Homo sapiens: one gene and its partners. The protein of the gene in region 1 purifies or fractionates together with the protein of each later gene. This does not show direct contact. Each region holds a gene or a part of one and is shown on either strand. Other genes may lie near its edges.

Evidence for each region.
Region 2: the proteins of EDA (region 1) and P3H2 purify together in Homo sapiens (affinity purification with mass spectrometry; 4 studies listed by BioGRID and IntAct, with this or other methods). This does not show direct contact.
Region 3: the proteins of EDA (region 1) and CWC22 purify together in Homo sapiens (affinity purification with mass spectrometry; 4 studies listed by BioGRID and IntAct, with this or other methods). This does not show direct contact.
Region 4: the proteins of EDA (region 1) and CRTAP purify together in Homo sapiens (affinity purification with mass spectrometry; 3 studies listed by BioGRID and IntAct, with this or other methods). This does not show direct contact.

Annotation. Positions count from the first base shown.
Region 1 is NC_000023.11:70,035,613-70,039,112, reverse strand, and holds part of EDA (ectodysplasin-A), read right to left. Parts: 3' UTR 1-3,500. UniProt on the Homo sapiens protein: Cytokine which is involved in epithelial-mesenchymal signaling during morphogenesis of ectodermal organs. Functions as a ligand activating the DEATH-domain containing receptors EDAR and EDA2R. May also play a role in cell adhesion.
Region 2 is NC_000003.12:189,960,398-189,963,897, forward strand, and holds part of P3H2 (prolyl 3-hydroxylase 2 isoform a precursor), read right to left. Parts: intron 1-3,500. UniProt on the Homo sapiens protein: Prolyl 3-hydroxylase that catalyzes the post-translational formation of 3-hydroxyproline on collagens. Contributes to proline 3-hydroxylation of collagen COL4A1 and COL1A1 in tendons, the eye sclera and in the eye lens capsule.
Region 3 is NC_000002.12:179,969,298-179,972,797, forward strand, and holds part of CWC22 (pre-mRNA-splicing factor CWC22 homolog), read right to left. Parts: intron 1,780-3,500; coding exon 1,644-1,779; intron 1,560-1,643; coding exon 1,353-1,559; intron 1,267-1,352; coding exon 1,204-1,266; intron 1-1,203. UniProt on the Homo sapiens protein: Required for pre-mRNA splicing as component of the spliceosome. As a component of the minor spliceosome, involved in the splicing of U12-type introns in pre-mRNAs. Promotes exon-junction complex (EJC) assembly.
Region 4 is NC_000003.12:33,117,014-33,120,513, reverse strand, and holds part of CRTAP (cartilage-associated protein isoform 1 precursor), read right to left. Parts: intron 171-3,500; coding exon 21-170; intron 1-20. UniProt on the Homo sapiens protein: Necessary for efficient 3-hydroxylation of fibrillar collagen prolyl residues.

The DNA of each region.
Region 1 (3,500 bases):
TGGGCCAGTCTTGTGCTTTCCAGTCCAGAGGCTAGAGCTGGGAGAATGCCTTGGGAGGAGGAAGAGTTCTGATGAAGGCTGCAGCTACTCTCTCCCTGCCTGGCCAGGCTCCTGAAGGGGGCCAAGTACTTCCAGCCTGGAGTTTGTGGGTGGAAGAAAGAAGATGGCCATGTGGGACAGGAACTGCTTTACCCCCTCACTCTGCTGAGTCTGGAGGTTGGTGCTTGCTCACCACTTGGGGCAGGTCATCTTCCCTCTCTGGGCCTCAGTTTCTACATAAGTAACAGGGTGGAATGTAGGTTGGGCTAGATTCCCTCTAAGGGCCTTTTTAGCTCTAAATTTCTCTGAATCTATTTGCATCCACAGGAAGTTACATAAACACATACACTCATACATGGATCAAAGTCTTTGTTTACCTCCAGGGTTCCTAGCTCTTTCCTGTTCAGCAAAAGAAATTTGGCTCAGGATGGATGAAGGGGGAAATAGGCAAATACTACTTCTCCAGGTAACCAGTAGCCGAGCAGCCTCCGCCAGCTGTCTTTTGTGCCAGCTTGGCTGTTGAAGCCCAAGTAACTGGCAGAGACTCCTGCCATGCCATTCTCCTTCAAACCTCTGTCATCTGCTTGCCCACAAATGTCCTCGTCCCATTCTCCATGCAAGCATTGGTCCTCTGGCAAATTCACACCAACATAATTCCAAACTGCACATCTATTTCCACATTCTCTCATCAGTAAATTGCTTTGTCACTTTGCCAATGACTTAGCAGCAATAGGGCTCCCCAGCTACCTATTGCTTCCCTCATCATCCCTCGCCCTCTAGAGTTCCTTTGGAGGGTTCAGAATGAATCAAGGGTCCAGTGGAGATCCTATTTCCTTTATCATCCCCTCCATGTCTGGAGAATAGAATGGTATCAGGATGCTCTTTAGGGGCACAATTAGGAAGACTTTTCCTCCTCTCTCCTCACACCTTTCTGGCCTCAGAACCAGTCCTCTCTTTCAGGTCTTCCCTCCATCCCTGAGAGACCCTGGTAGTATCAAAGTCTCTAAGGTATGGTGGAAAGAGATAAGGAGTCACACTAGTAGTTGTGGGAAGCAGGCTGGCTCCTGTAAGCTGTCTGTAGGGTAATGAAAGGAGGACTTTGCCCACAGTAGGGGCTCTACACATGATGGTTGGCTGGTTCCTAGGATGGGTGAAAGAACATAAAGGCCACAAGTTCTGTGGGTCCCAGAGGCCTGCTGCTCCAACATTGTGCCAGGAAGATTCTTCTGAACACAAGAGCTCTAAGGCTGTTCGCTGTTTTCCAAAGAAATGTCTGACTCTTTTTGCCACAGAGCCCCTGGCAGCCGAGAGGACGGGTATTACCATCGAGGAATGAAATCAGGCATCTCTGGGTTTCTCCCCGGAACTCTCAAGGATTTCAGTTCCCAATTACCACTTTTATTGGTTCTCTCTAGACCTCAAATTCCACACAATGCTGTGGTGTAATGGAACAGCTTTGGAGTCAGACCTGGCTGAAGCTCCAGGTCTGCGGCTTAAACTGGTCAAAACACTCTGAGAGTGCTACCTCTCTGAGCCTCATCTAAACAATGATGTTTGTCATATTATCAGCCTTGCCTTCTTCAAAGGAGATAATACAAGAGAAATTATTTTCCAAACATGAAGGAGTGGTTCTTGTTGGTTTCTGCTACAACTGCGGACTGTCCGAGGCACTTTATAGGAGTTAGGGCCAGACACATGCCTGGAGTTCACCTCACCTTGGGTTGCAAGGCTGTCATTAGCAACCAGACAACGGAGGCCTAGCCCATCACGTCTCACCCTGACCCTTGAAGGGCCAAGCAGTGTGGTTGCTTAGAAAGGGAAGGCACAGCTGAGAAATAAGTACCCGCTGTTCTTGGTGAATTTCAGCTGCCTGAAGGAAATTATTCCCCATCTCCTGAAAAGGAAACACATTTCAGGAACAAGAGGAGCAGACTGTACAAGGCTGGCCTTCCCAGGTTTGGGCTGGATCTAGCACCCAGAAACCAGGCTGAGCCCAGGCACTTTGAAGTAAGGCTCTCGAGGGTCCTACCATATGATCTGTTGGGAAGCTTGGGGTTTAGGGGAAGGTGAATTTGGACCTGAACTAGGGGGCAGATCCCTGCTCAGTGCCTAGACACTGGCTTCTCCTGAGCCTGGCTTTAGGGGAGCAGCATGAGCACCTGCGGTGACAATGCTCTGCTGTGGCTTTTTGAAGCCAGAGTGAAGAAAGACTGGGTTAGTACAGCATCAGCTGCTGGCCTTTCAGATAAGGCCTGGCCTAACGTCCACTTGGGTTGCAGCAAACTTGAACAAAATCCCTCTGTCCTATCCTCACCCCTTGCCCTTTCTAGGCCAGGTAAAAAGGCTCTGCCTTGCTAATGCCCAGGAGCAGTCTAGGATTTGGGAATTTAGAAGGCTGTGGTGAGGGCTAAGAGTCACAGGTACTAGAAATTGAAGGGACTTCTGGAGGTCATCCCGTCCAACCCTTCGTCCCCAGACAGAATTTGATTAGGAATGGATGAAAAACATTTGTACTGCTTAATAAATGGAAAATTCTGTTTGTGCCCAGGTAAGCTAAAGAATATCCCAGACTCACATGACCACAGGTCCCAGGTTAGGCACCTGTCTCAGACAGAGGTAGGCTCCATGGAGAAAGAAGACAGGAGTTCTAGTCAGGCTGGGAATGGGGGCAACTAGAAGGTGACCCCAGGGAATTTTCTGAGTGTGGAGCACAGCTGTAAATAAAATGAGAGTCATGTGACCCAAGTACGGATTCAGGGTCTTAGGCGGGCAGGTTTGTGGCCATTCCCTGTGATTGTTCCAAAGCACAGCAAACTTCCCAAAGCCCAGCAAGCTGCCACGGTGTGGCTGTCAGCTGGAGTGGGAAGAGCACTCCAACCCTCCTGCAGGCCACAGTATAGAGCAGAAAGAACATTCCCACTGCCAAGGATGCTCCTTGGCAGGTTTCTCTTATGGTCTCTGCCAAAAGCACCTGCCTTTTCCCTCTCTGGCCTTCTTCTTAGGCTGCAATGCTCCCTTCCCACTCCACCCCAGCCACTACCCTACCCAAGAGAGGAGCAGCAGCCCCCTTGGGGTCAGATGTCCACCCCCAGAGTCTGGAGTGCACCTTTGCTTTCTCTGGCCTGCTGCCCTGGATCCTCATTTTAGTGCAACAAACAATAGATCTGACAACAGGGACCTCGGGGTTGAAGAGTCATGCCATAAGTCAGTCAACATGGAACCAAAGAAGGTTCTGCTTCATGTAAACCCTGGGGCTCCATCAACTGTCCTGTTAACTCAAGGTCATTCTGGAAAGTCAAGCAGGCCTTGTCACCCTGGAGTCACTGGGGAATAAATAACACTGGGGCATTTCTCTGCGGCTGCAACACCAATACACCTCACTCCACAGCAGCACTTAGAGGTTCTGGGAGTCCTGGCTCCCAAACCCAGGGAAGGGGCACGGACAGAGGCAAAATGGGGGG
Region 2 (3,500 bases), on another chromosome or scaffold:
TATTTTCAGTGCTCAGAAAAGCCACTGACATGTGGCAAGAGTTCTATTTTCTTTGATGAGTAAATGTGTAAATGGATGAAGCCTTTCTCTGTCTAAAATGCCTCTCCCTAAAGAAATTGATCTTTTAAAGCTTTTTTTCAAATGCCATCTCCTCAAAGAAGCCTTTTTGGATTGCTTTTTGATATCCCTCAAACCACGCATTTGCTGCTAAGGATTCTTACCAAAACTTGCCTTGTGGTTTAATTAGTTGGGTCCTTGTATTATTTCTCCAATTTGACTTCAAGCTCCTTGAAAATAGGAATTATATCCTACTAGTGTGCATTCCCCATAGGCGGTCTTTAACACAGTGCCTGCGCACAGTAAGTTAAATAAATAACTATTTTATGAATTGAAAACAAAGCCCCTTTCATGCAAGAGCTTGTAATAAAAAATGTTTACAAAAAGGCAACTAAAAGGACTAGATATACTAAATAACAGAAAATTAAGTTGCTGCCACATCTAAATAAAAAGCCCAAGTACTACTTTACAAATATAAGGAAAACAATCTTTTTTTTTTTTTTCAAGACAGAGTCTCACTCTGTTGCCCAGGTTGGAGTGCAGTGGTGCGATCTCGGGTTACAGCAACCTCCACCTCCTGGATTCAAGTGATTCTCCTGCCTCAGCCTCCCCAGTAGCTGGGATTACAGGCATATGCCACCATGCCTGGCTAATTTTTGTAATTTTAGTAGAGACGGGGTTTCGCCATGTTGGCCAGGCTGGTTTCGAACCCCTGACCTCAGGTGATCTGCCCGCCTCGGCCTCCCCAAGTGCTAGGATTACAGGACTGAGCCACCGTGCCCGGCCAAGGAAAACAATCCTGATACTTAACAAATCGACACACATACAAAGCTTTCACATCTGTTGACCACAAGAAATGATTGTAATCTTGTTTCTCATTAAGGGAAAGAAATTCAAGAGCTGGAACCAATATATATGAAGCTTCGAACATCCTTGCATCCTTAAAAGGATGTTGCTAAATACTCCTTGAGAACTGAGACCCTTTAAAGTAATTCATAATAAGCATGAGAATCGGCCAGCTCTAATGACTTGTTCATAGGTAGGCATTTTTTTTTTCTGAGATTCAATCTGCAAAAAGACGTCTAGGCCAGGAACTCCCAAACTCTGCTGCTGCACGTTAGAATCACCTGGGGAGCTCTTAAAACTCCTGAAACACAGATGTTAGTAGTTTGTAACGATCAATAGATGATCTCCACGTGTAGCAAAGAATGATTCACAGCCTGGGCTAATTTAGCTGAGGAAAAAGTTCTGGTCATTTCCCACTGTGGCCACTAGATGCCGCTACGGCCTGAAGACTGGAGAGGTTTTCTAGTACTTTTCCATCAGAGGAAGGGACGCTGGCGTTGATGTTTCCTATTACAAAGGAGCAAAGAGAACTTACTTTGTGTTAGCTTATTTTGAGAGAACAATACCTTGGAAAAGGGAGTTTGGATACTGAATGATGAAATAGATTAAATGTCTGCTGAATTGAATACTAGAATAGTGAGGTAATATTTCAATAATTTTATCTTCACTGTCTACCCATTGACATAGGTTCCTTAGTTTAAAAAAAAATGCTTTGATGGAATGCTAACATTTTGGAGATGGAAAATACCAGGATATAAAGTAATGATAGGGGAAGGCAATTGTTTGCTGCTCCCTTGAGGTTTTCAGGACTCTGTGCTCTGGTCCTTTTGTCAGGGCCTTTCTTTCTTTTTCTTCTTCTTCTTTTTTTTTTTTTTTTTTTTTTTTAAGACAGAGTCTCACTCTTGTCGCCCAGGTTACAGTGTGGTGGAGTGATCTCAGCTCACTGCAACTGCAGCCTCCACCTCCTGGGTTCAAGCGATTCCCCTGCCTCAGGCTCCCGAGCAGCTGGGATTACAGGTGCGTGCCACCACGCCAGGCTAATTTTTGTATTTTTAGTAGAGATGGGGTTTCACCATGTTGGCCAGGCTGGTCTCCAACTCCTGACCTCAGGTGATCCACCCACCTAGGCCTCCAAAAGTGCAGGGATTATAGGCGTGAGCCACCACGCCCAGCCAGGGCCATTTTTTCTATGCCTGGCTATCGTCTTTGCTTCTAGGTCTGAGCTTATAGAAGTCTTCCTTGATTCCCTGCTACAAAACATATACTGTTCTCTTCTTACAGCGTATTTACTAGCTGTTCTGTCCAAGCTCCTCATAGTCCAGGACCTTGTTCTGTTCACCCTTCTACCCCTAGGGCCTATCTAGCAGAGTTTCCAAGGCAGATAATAATAGCTCTTCTGTACAATAAAAGGTCACAATAGGTCTTTTGTAAAATATGTGAAAGAATGGCTTAGGGAATGTGGGGAAACACTTTGTAAGTTAGATTTGATGGTGAAAAGTATATGAGAAAAACGCATTATTTTTAAATAGTTTCTGATGAAATTGGATTCAACTTAGGAACCTAACAAGGAAAACTGGATAGAATGCCAGTTTTAAGAATAGAATTTCATAGCTTCATCAATACTTAGGGCTGGAGAAGATTTGGAGGTCATCCAGTTAAGCCTCTGCTACGATGTTTTAGATTCCATTTCAGCGTTCCATGCTAAGCAGTTGCCTGGGCTTTGATTGGAGCCATCCAATCAGTGCTTCCAAAGCAGACAATTCTGCCAAACTGTGGTGACTATTTGAAAGTTATTCCTTGTGTGGAGCCCAAATTTTCCCTCCAGGGCTTCTACCCATTGGTCTTAATTCATACCGCTGCAGCTCCACAGGTGGAGACTATGACATCTGCCCACGGGCTTCCAAAACGATGAGATCATGGTCTCCTCCTAGCTAAGTGTCCTCAGCTAGTTTGCATATAATAATATTGAAATACTTAATGTAATAACAGTAATAAGTAATAATAATCTTTTAGGTTTCCTTGCCCTCTTTCAAATACGTTTCATAAATGATTCAATACTATTTCTTATGATTTGCGAGAAAACAAATCCGTCTTCTGGGTGACCAATAAAAAGTGATTCCTCCCTGATGCCACAGAGTTGTTTTGGTTTTTGTTTTTGTTTTGAGACAGAGTCTTGCCCTGTTGCCCAGGCTGAAGTGCAGTGGTGCGATCTCGGCTTACTGCAATTTACGCCTCCCAGGTTCAAGCGATTCTCCTGCCTCAGCTTCCCGAGTAACTGGAACTACAGGCGCATGCCACCACATCCAGCTAATTTTGTATTTTTAGTAGAGATGGGGTTTCAGCATGTTGATCAGGCTGGTCTCGAACTCCCGACCTCAAGTGATCTGCCCACCTCGGCCTCCCAAAGTTCTGGGGTTATAGGAGTGAGCCACCACGCCCAGCCTTACAATTTGTTAATAAGCTCAAGACAGATTAGTGACTATCAAATATCATTGACACAGCTATTTCTACAAACATCTTCACTTACTAGAACATATCTGATTAAGAACTGCCTTTACCCTCTTCTTTTCCTCAGACGAAGCAATTTAAAGGACTTC
Region 3 (3,500 bases), on another chromosome or scaffold:
AAATGAAATTATAACAGAAAAAAAGAATCTGGCATATTACAGTGAAAAGCTCCTAGGAAATCAGCATCTAAGAAGAGAAACTCATTATTATAACAGGTTTTTAGGATAATGCAGAGGAATGGAAGATTTCTCCCAATTTTACTTTTCATTTCAACCTTCTACTTCTAAGCACTACTGAACAATGGAATGCAGACAGAGACAGAGTTCTAGGTTTCTGCTTTCTCTGTATATGAGACTACATAAGGCTGGTCTTTATGTTAAAAGCAAACAAATGACAAAAACTAAAATTACATTTTGCCCAATGGTGCTGTTAGCCTGATAAAAGATTTTGCAAAGCTAACCAACTCTTTACATTTCTATTATAATCAGAGAGCTTTTAATACAAACTTTTGGGGTTTAATACAAAGGTAAATTTTATTGCTTCCACAGCAATAAATACTTCTCCAGTAAAATTACAACTCAAGAGAAATAAGCCCATAAAATTATTATGTAAGTAGGCCTGAGTGTTAGCTTTAGGAGGAAAATAATACAAATGTGAAAATAGTAACTAATAATAGCTATCATTGTAGGTGATAATACACAACACTGTGTTTTATATATCCTTCCATAGAAAGGTAACATTTAGTCTTCCAACAAACAAGTAACTTGCTACAGGTCACTCAGCTAGTAATGTCAAAGATAAATTACACATCAAAACCTGTCCAAAGTTAGTACTTACAATATACCAATGATGTACAAATGAAAATGATCAATTTATTTTATCAGAGAGGCACCAATACTATGATTCATCCTACCAGAAGGATATTAACCTGACCTCAAGAAACAATAAAGTATAGCACTTTACAATAAAGTATACCACTTAATTGAATACTAAACTGGGTGGCACAGAATGTAAATGGTAGAGAAGCTAAATAAAGGCCACCACTAATCTATGAATATTTCTTAAGATGGGTGAGACGTAAGTGTTGCATAGTTTAGAGGGAAAGAGGAAAGAACAATGGGGTAAGTAATTCAGAATGAAGTAAAAAACCCTGGGCAAGCACCAGGAAAAAAATAATGCCCGAGGAAACAGCTAAGAGAATAACTTTATAAGAGCAGCGATTCATTAGGTGGGGATCTCTAAATATTTGCTATCAGTATTACGTAACTACTTAAATTGCTTCTACTTATCCAAACTAAATTATTTTATAAAATTTTACATACCTTTCTTAATAGCTTTGTACTTCTCTTCATTCTCCATAAAATTAGGATCCATCTTGAAAACATCTAAAAAAAATGTAAAAGTTAATGTTTATTTTCTATATTTACATTTGTTGGTAAGCCTCTTTCCAACTAACATGCCCCGGACTTACTAAGAACATCTTCTGGATTATAGTCATCCTCCAGAGGGAGCATATGAGTGAATTGATCATCTTCTTCCACCAAATCAAGACCTTCTAGGATAATGGGGTGGTCCTTGAATCCATCTTTCCGTACAGCAAACATCACTTCAATCATATATTGAACTCTTTTGTCAATTTCAGACTCATGCAGAATGTTTCGAAGGCGTTCAAATATAGCTAAAAGTTAACAGAAAGAAAAGACAATAAAATAAGCAATAAATATAATAAAAACTTAACATCAAACTATGAATGTACACTTACCATTGATTCCTCTTGGTGACACTTGTGTTAATTTGAGGCCACATTCCTTAAGAAAACCAATAGCTACTTCAACGCTATCATCTGTTGGTCTTTCCAGGAGCAAAGTGAGCATCTCTAAGCATAATACTTCGTGTGCCTTAAATAAAATACATATACAAGGAAGAAACAAAATGCTTTTACATACATTAAATTATTTTTATAATTTCTAAAAATTAGTAAATCTGTTTACAATAATTATATTGCACATATGATGGGCAAAGTTTTATAAAGCACATGGAAATACTCCAAATATGGGATACAATTTTTCTATCACTTTTATTATCTGTCTACTAAGAATTTTCAGATGACTGTTTCAAAAATCTTAATTTTCTATGCTGAATACAACTATTTGAATTATCTTCAGAAGAAATATTCTTAGCCATTATGTACGGAAAGTGTCATAGATAAAATATGTTAAAAATCATATACTACTTTCTAATAAGGTAATTATTTTCATAATTACTACATAAGAAATAGTAATATGATTTATAATACCCTTCTCCATGATCACAATTCTTTATATACATTTCCCAATTCATTCTATCAGCAACTCTATTAGACACAAATAGTCCTTAAGTTACATGAATACTAATTTTATCACAAAATATCTTAACAACTTCTGGAACACAACAGTTTTGAATAGTCTATCTTTTTTTAAAAAATTAAATCAAACTATTACTGGCCACGTTCAAAAACTGACATTTATAAACAATGCCAGGAAGAGTGGGAATAAAATTCTATTGAGAAGTTTGCTAAGAGAAGAAAACGAACAACAAAGAATGTTTAAAACACCATACATATGCCTTTCTAAAGTCAGACAGTGATTTAAGATGGTGAGGAAAGAAGTCTAAATCTCAACTCAGGAGATATCTTCTTCCAGCTGTGCACAACATCAAAGACACCCACTACTTCTTTTTACTAGGGGAGGAGGGGTGTCAAACAGTCTTAGGTCAGTGACAAGAAAATACTGCCCTGTACCACAGCTGGAAGATGCAAAAAATTTATCATATCGAGTGTTTCATGGCAATGCCAAAAATCTCTAGTCTAAGTGTAATACACATTTAAAAACGGAAATATATCTCTGGTTACAGATGTGAAATTAAGTTTCCATGGTCTTAAGTAGCAAGTTATCACTGTAATAATATGATGACTAATTAGGTCAAAATCTAAAAGATTTGTAAGAGTGAAAGAATTTTCATGTAAATAAGAATCAAAATATTTAATATTAGTGAAATAAGACTAAGCATGACTTTAAAATTCTTCCTGTTATACATGATATTAAATTGGAAATGATAATATATATCTGAAGGAAACTTTTGAGTATGAGCAAGGACAATTTTAGCATTTTCATGGTTAAATAAAAGCTAAATCAAAACCATCAAATAATGAATATAAAATAAACACAAACTGAATAACAGCATGATAAAATTACCTGCATTTGAAACAGATTAAAATCGATCAACTCTATTCTATCAAGTGATTCTAAAAATATATGACTATACCTGTGTGGTTGCAAGGAATAGAGGTTTTTGTAGAATATCAGATATTTATTAGATTCTCATGAACAGCAGGGAATGAAGTGGAGGAGATACCAACTTTATTGTTTTATAAAAATGAAGGGAATGGTTCTTCAAAGGAATGGTTTGCAGTCAAGTAACCATGTACAGTATTAAGTCAGATTAATTTGATAAATATCTAAAGTGTTTTGATCAGCATCAAAGTGTTATATTAAAGAATATTAAATATGGCCAGGCGTGGTGGCTCACACCTGTAATCTCAACACTTTGGGAGGCCGAGGCTGGTGGATCACGAGTTCAG
Region 4 (3,500 bases), on another chromosome or scaffold:
ACATAAAAATCCAAACATACTTCATATGACTTGGTTTCCAGGTCTTTAATGTAGTCCTCGGCACCAGGCAGGCTCTTATAATATGCCATGTTCCTCTTCATCATTTCGTCATCAGGATGCTTCAGTAGAAAGGTGTGAGCAGCGGCGATGGCTTTGGGGAGATTATTTGCCTAAAAGGACAAAGAACATAAAAGCTACTCCATGGATGCTAAGTGGTAATTTTTGTAAAACAAGAATATCTGCTTAGTCCTTCAGAAACTTTGTGTTGCTATAACTTTTCCAGCTAAAGGTTCCATGACTTCCAGGGCCCCTCAAGACCAAGTCCAGGCACTGTGAGACAAGTGCTGATTTCCTGAAAGCGACTGTCTGGATGGCCTCGGTCTGCCTTTCCCAATCTACTCTGCACTGGCTACATGCCCCAGGAGGCTGGCCTGTGTGGACTATAACAACAGACTCCCTCGCTCTCTGGCTTCCAAAGAGGTTCACCCATGAGGAGCCCCAGTAGATGACTGAGGAAGGGAAGAGAGTAAGGTCATGTTATTTCATTTCCTGGTTCCCTCCCTGCACAGTCCTCTTGGGCTGCTATGTCCCTTAATTGAAGATCACAGTTCTTCTCAAGGTGACCCTCTCCATAGAGTCTCCCTCCTTCCCGGTTTCAATCACTGCTCTCTCCCCTGCCCCTTTTGGCCTAGGGTTGGTCATATCCCACTGCTATCACCCCTGTGGCAGAACACTATCTCTTGTGGATTCCCCATGCACTGCACACACCTTTGTAAATAACCACCTTCTTAAACTTTCCTCCAATTACCCAATATGACTGCACCATATCTTTTCCACTGGCACCTTGACAAATATATTGTTTTCCCAAATCCCCCACAGACCTTCTGCTAACATTCTCAATGACTCCACCACCTCCTCACTTATTCATCCATTCATGCAGCAATAAACGTCATATTACAAGAGCACCATTTCTAGGTTGTGGGTCTATAACAATAAGCAAAACAGGAAAAAAAAATCCCCACCTGCATGGACCATATATTCTGTTAAGTTCTCCCTGTCTCCTAGTGGCCTCAATTAAGAGCCTCTCTGTTGGGCTAGTTCTGGGTTCTGTCTTCCCGCATTTTACGCCACCCTACAATCTCAGTGGTACGTCTATCTCCCCCATCAGACTATGATCCTCGGGGGACCCAGCTGTGTGTCATTCATTATCTGGATTCCTGGTGCCTCACACAGTCCTCAGGACAAGGCAGGACACAATAAGTATCTGTGATTTGAACATAATGACATTATGACCATAAAATATAATAAAATTAATTCACATTTTCCTCTCTTTTCCCCTCTGTCTTCTCTCCATTGAAGGGGCCAATGATTCTGAGTTTCACTGTCTCAGGGGAGGTAGATATCTGGTCAGAACCAGCAAATTATTCACTTGAAAAAAGCCTGCACTCACAAAAGAGCCTGACAGGTTTGAGGGGAGAAAGAAATTGGAGAGGAGCTGCAGGAAGAAGCTGACTGGCCTGGGAGAAGAAGAGGGAGAAAGGGAATCTCCCAGGCTAGGAAAAAAGTTTCCCTTGGGATCTGTGAGAGCAGCAGGGCTGCGGGCCCCGGAGCTTCAGGGCTGGCACTTATCGGCAGTGTTCAAGACGGCAGAAGTCCTCAGGAAGAACAGGTATGTTATGGCAGGACCTCAGGAGGGCAGGCAAATAAGGATGCAGAGGCCTCCCTGTGAGGACTCATGACCACCAACCAGAGGGCCCCCATGCTGATGGACTCTTGGCACAACCTAGTAGGGAGAAGGGCAGGCACCTGTGCATGTGCACAGAGACTCAGCCAATCCAGAGGGACGCTCCAAGGCGGGAATTAGGGAATTCGGTTTAGACAGAGAAAATAAAGGAATATTTGGTATACCCTAGACTTCTAAGAGTCATAGGATGGCATATATCGGTACCGAATTGCCCCAGAATTGGAACCAAGTCATTTTGAGACAATGGCAGTGGCCACATCAGAGAAGTGGTGGGTGGTGATGAGGGCAGACTCCCAGATGTCAATGCTGATGTTTTGGGAATGCCAATTAGTGGCTTGTGGCAGGGCTGCCTTTAAAACAGCCCTACAGAAAGCTTCACACTCCTGGCCAGAAAAAGGCTAGTCTTCAGCTGGAAGGAAGGGAGAGGGTATGAATGCTGCCTTTTAAAGCATTTGCCAGTGAAATTAGAGTCACTAATTCTCAGAACAGCACTTAGAAAGAGGGGCACAGAGGCCGGGAGCAGTGGCTCATGCCTGTAATCCCAGCACTTTAGGAGGTCGAGGTGGGTGGATCACGAGGTCAGGAGTCCAAGATCAGCCTGGCCAAGATGATGAAACCCCATCTCTACTAAAAAGACAAAAATTAGCCAGGCACAGTGGCAGGTGCTTGTAATCCCAGCTACTCGGGAGGCTGAGGCAGGAGAATCACTTGAACCCGGGGGGCGGAGGTTGCAGTGAGCCAGGATCGCACCACTGCACTCCAGTCTGGGTGACACAGTGAGATTCCGTCTCAAAAAAGAAAGAAAGAAAGAAAGAAAGGAATAGAAAGAGGGGCACAGAGTAGGATTTTTAAGGCTTCTAACTTAGGATGTTTTACAAAACGGAATCTCTTCCTGAAGAGAAAAGAGTGATTTTATTTACTTCAACTCAGGCTCTGCAGCTGGAACATGGAGACACATCTTGGCTACCAAACCTCTGACAGACCCCAGGCAGATTTTGGAGAAGGTGGTAGGGATGGAGGGAACCACCTTGCCTTGGGTTCCTGAGATACAGCCACCAGCATGAGCCACCCTAAATCAGCCATGACACAGAGGCAGGCCCTGTGGTTCCGGGGAGTTAGAGGCCACAGCCAGGCAAGGCCTGGGGTTAACAGTGCCTGTGAGTCAGTGTTCTCTGTCCAGGTTAGAGCTCAACAGTCATTAAGGATTTGATGAAGTGCTCCGGCCTACTTTTTGCTTGGCCTATGAGAAAAATGAGTTTTTCGTGGAAGATGGTAATTGTGGAGAGAACCCAAAGAAAGCTAATGACATGGACCTAGAGTAGGCTGGTGACGAGAAACCTATGATGCACCTGAGGCTGCACACCAGTAGCACAGCCCTTTTCTACAAGAGCACACATCCAAACCTCCTCGCCTCCCTCTGGCAGTCGGAACCCACCATTGCTATTCCAGTGATCAATTGAGGCATTTCTCCTTAATCACTGAAACAGAGAACTGCAACTCAGAACAGCAGAGTAACATTTATCCATGTCCTGCCACAGCGCACTATCTACCTTCATATCGACCTCCAGCCTTCAGGTGCCAGGTAGAATGTATGTGCCTGCCACCCATCTTTTCCTCTCTATCCATAAACAGAGTTTAAACACGTAAACATCACTTTTTTTTGACACAAGAGTCTTGTTCTGTCACCCAGGCTGGAGTGCAGTGGTAAGATCACAGCTCACTGCAGCCTTGACTTTCTGGGCTCAAGTGATCCTCC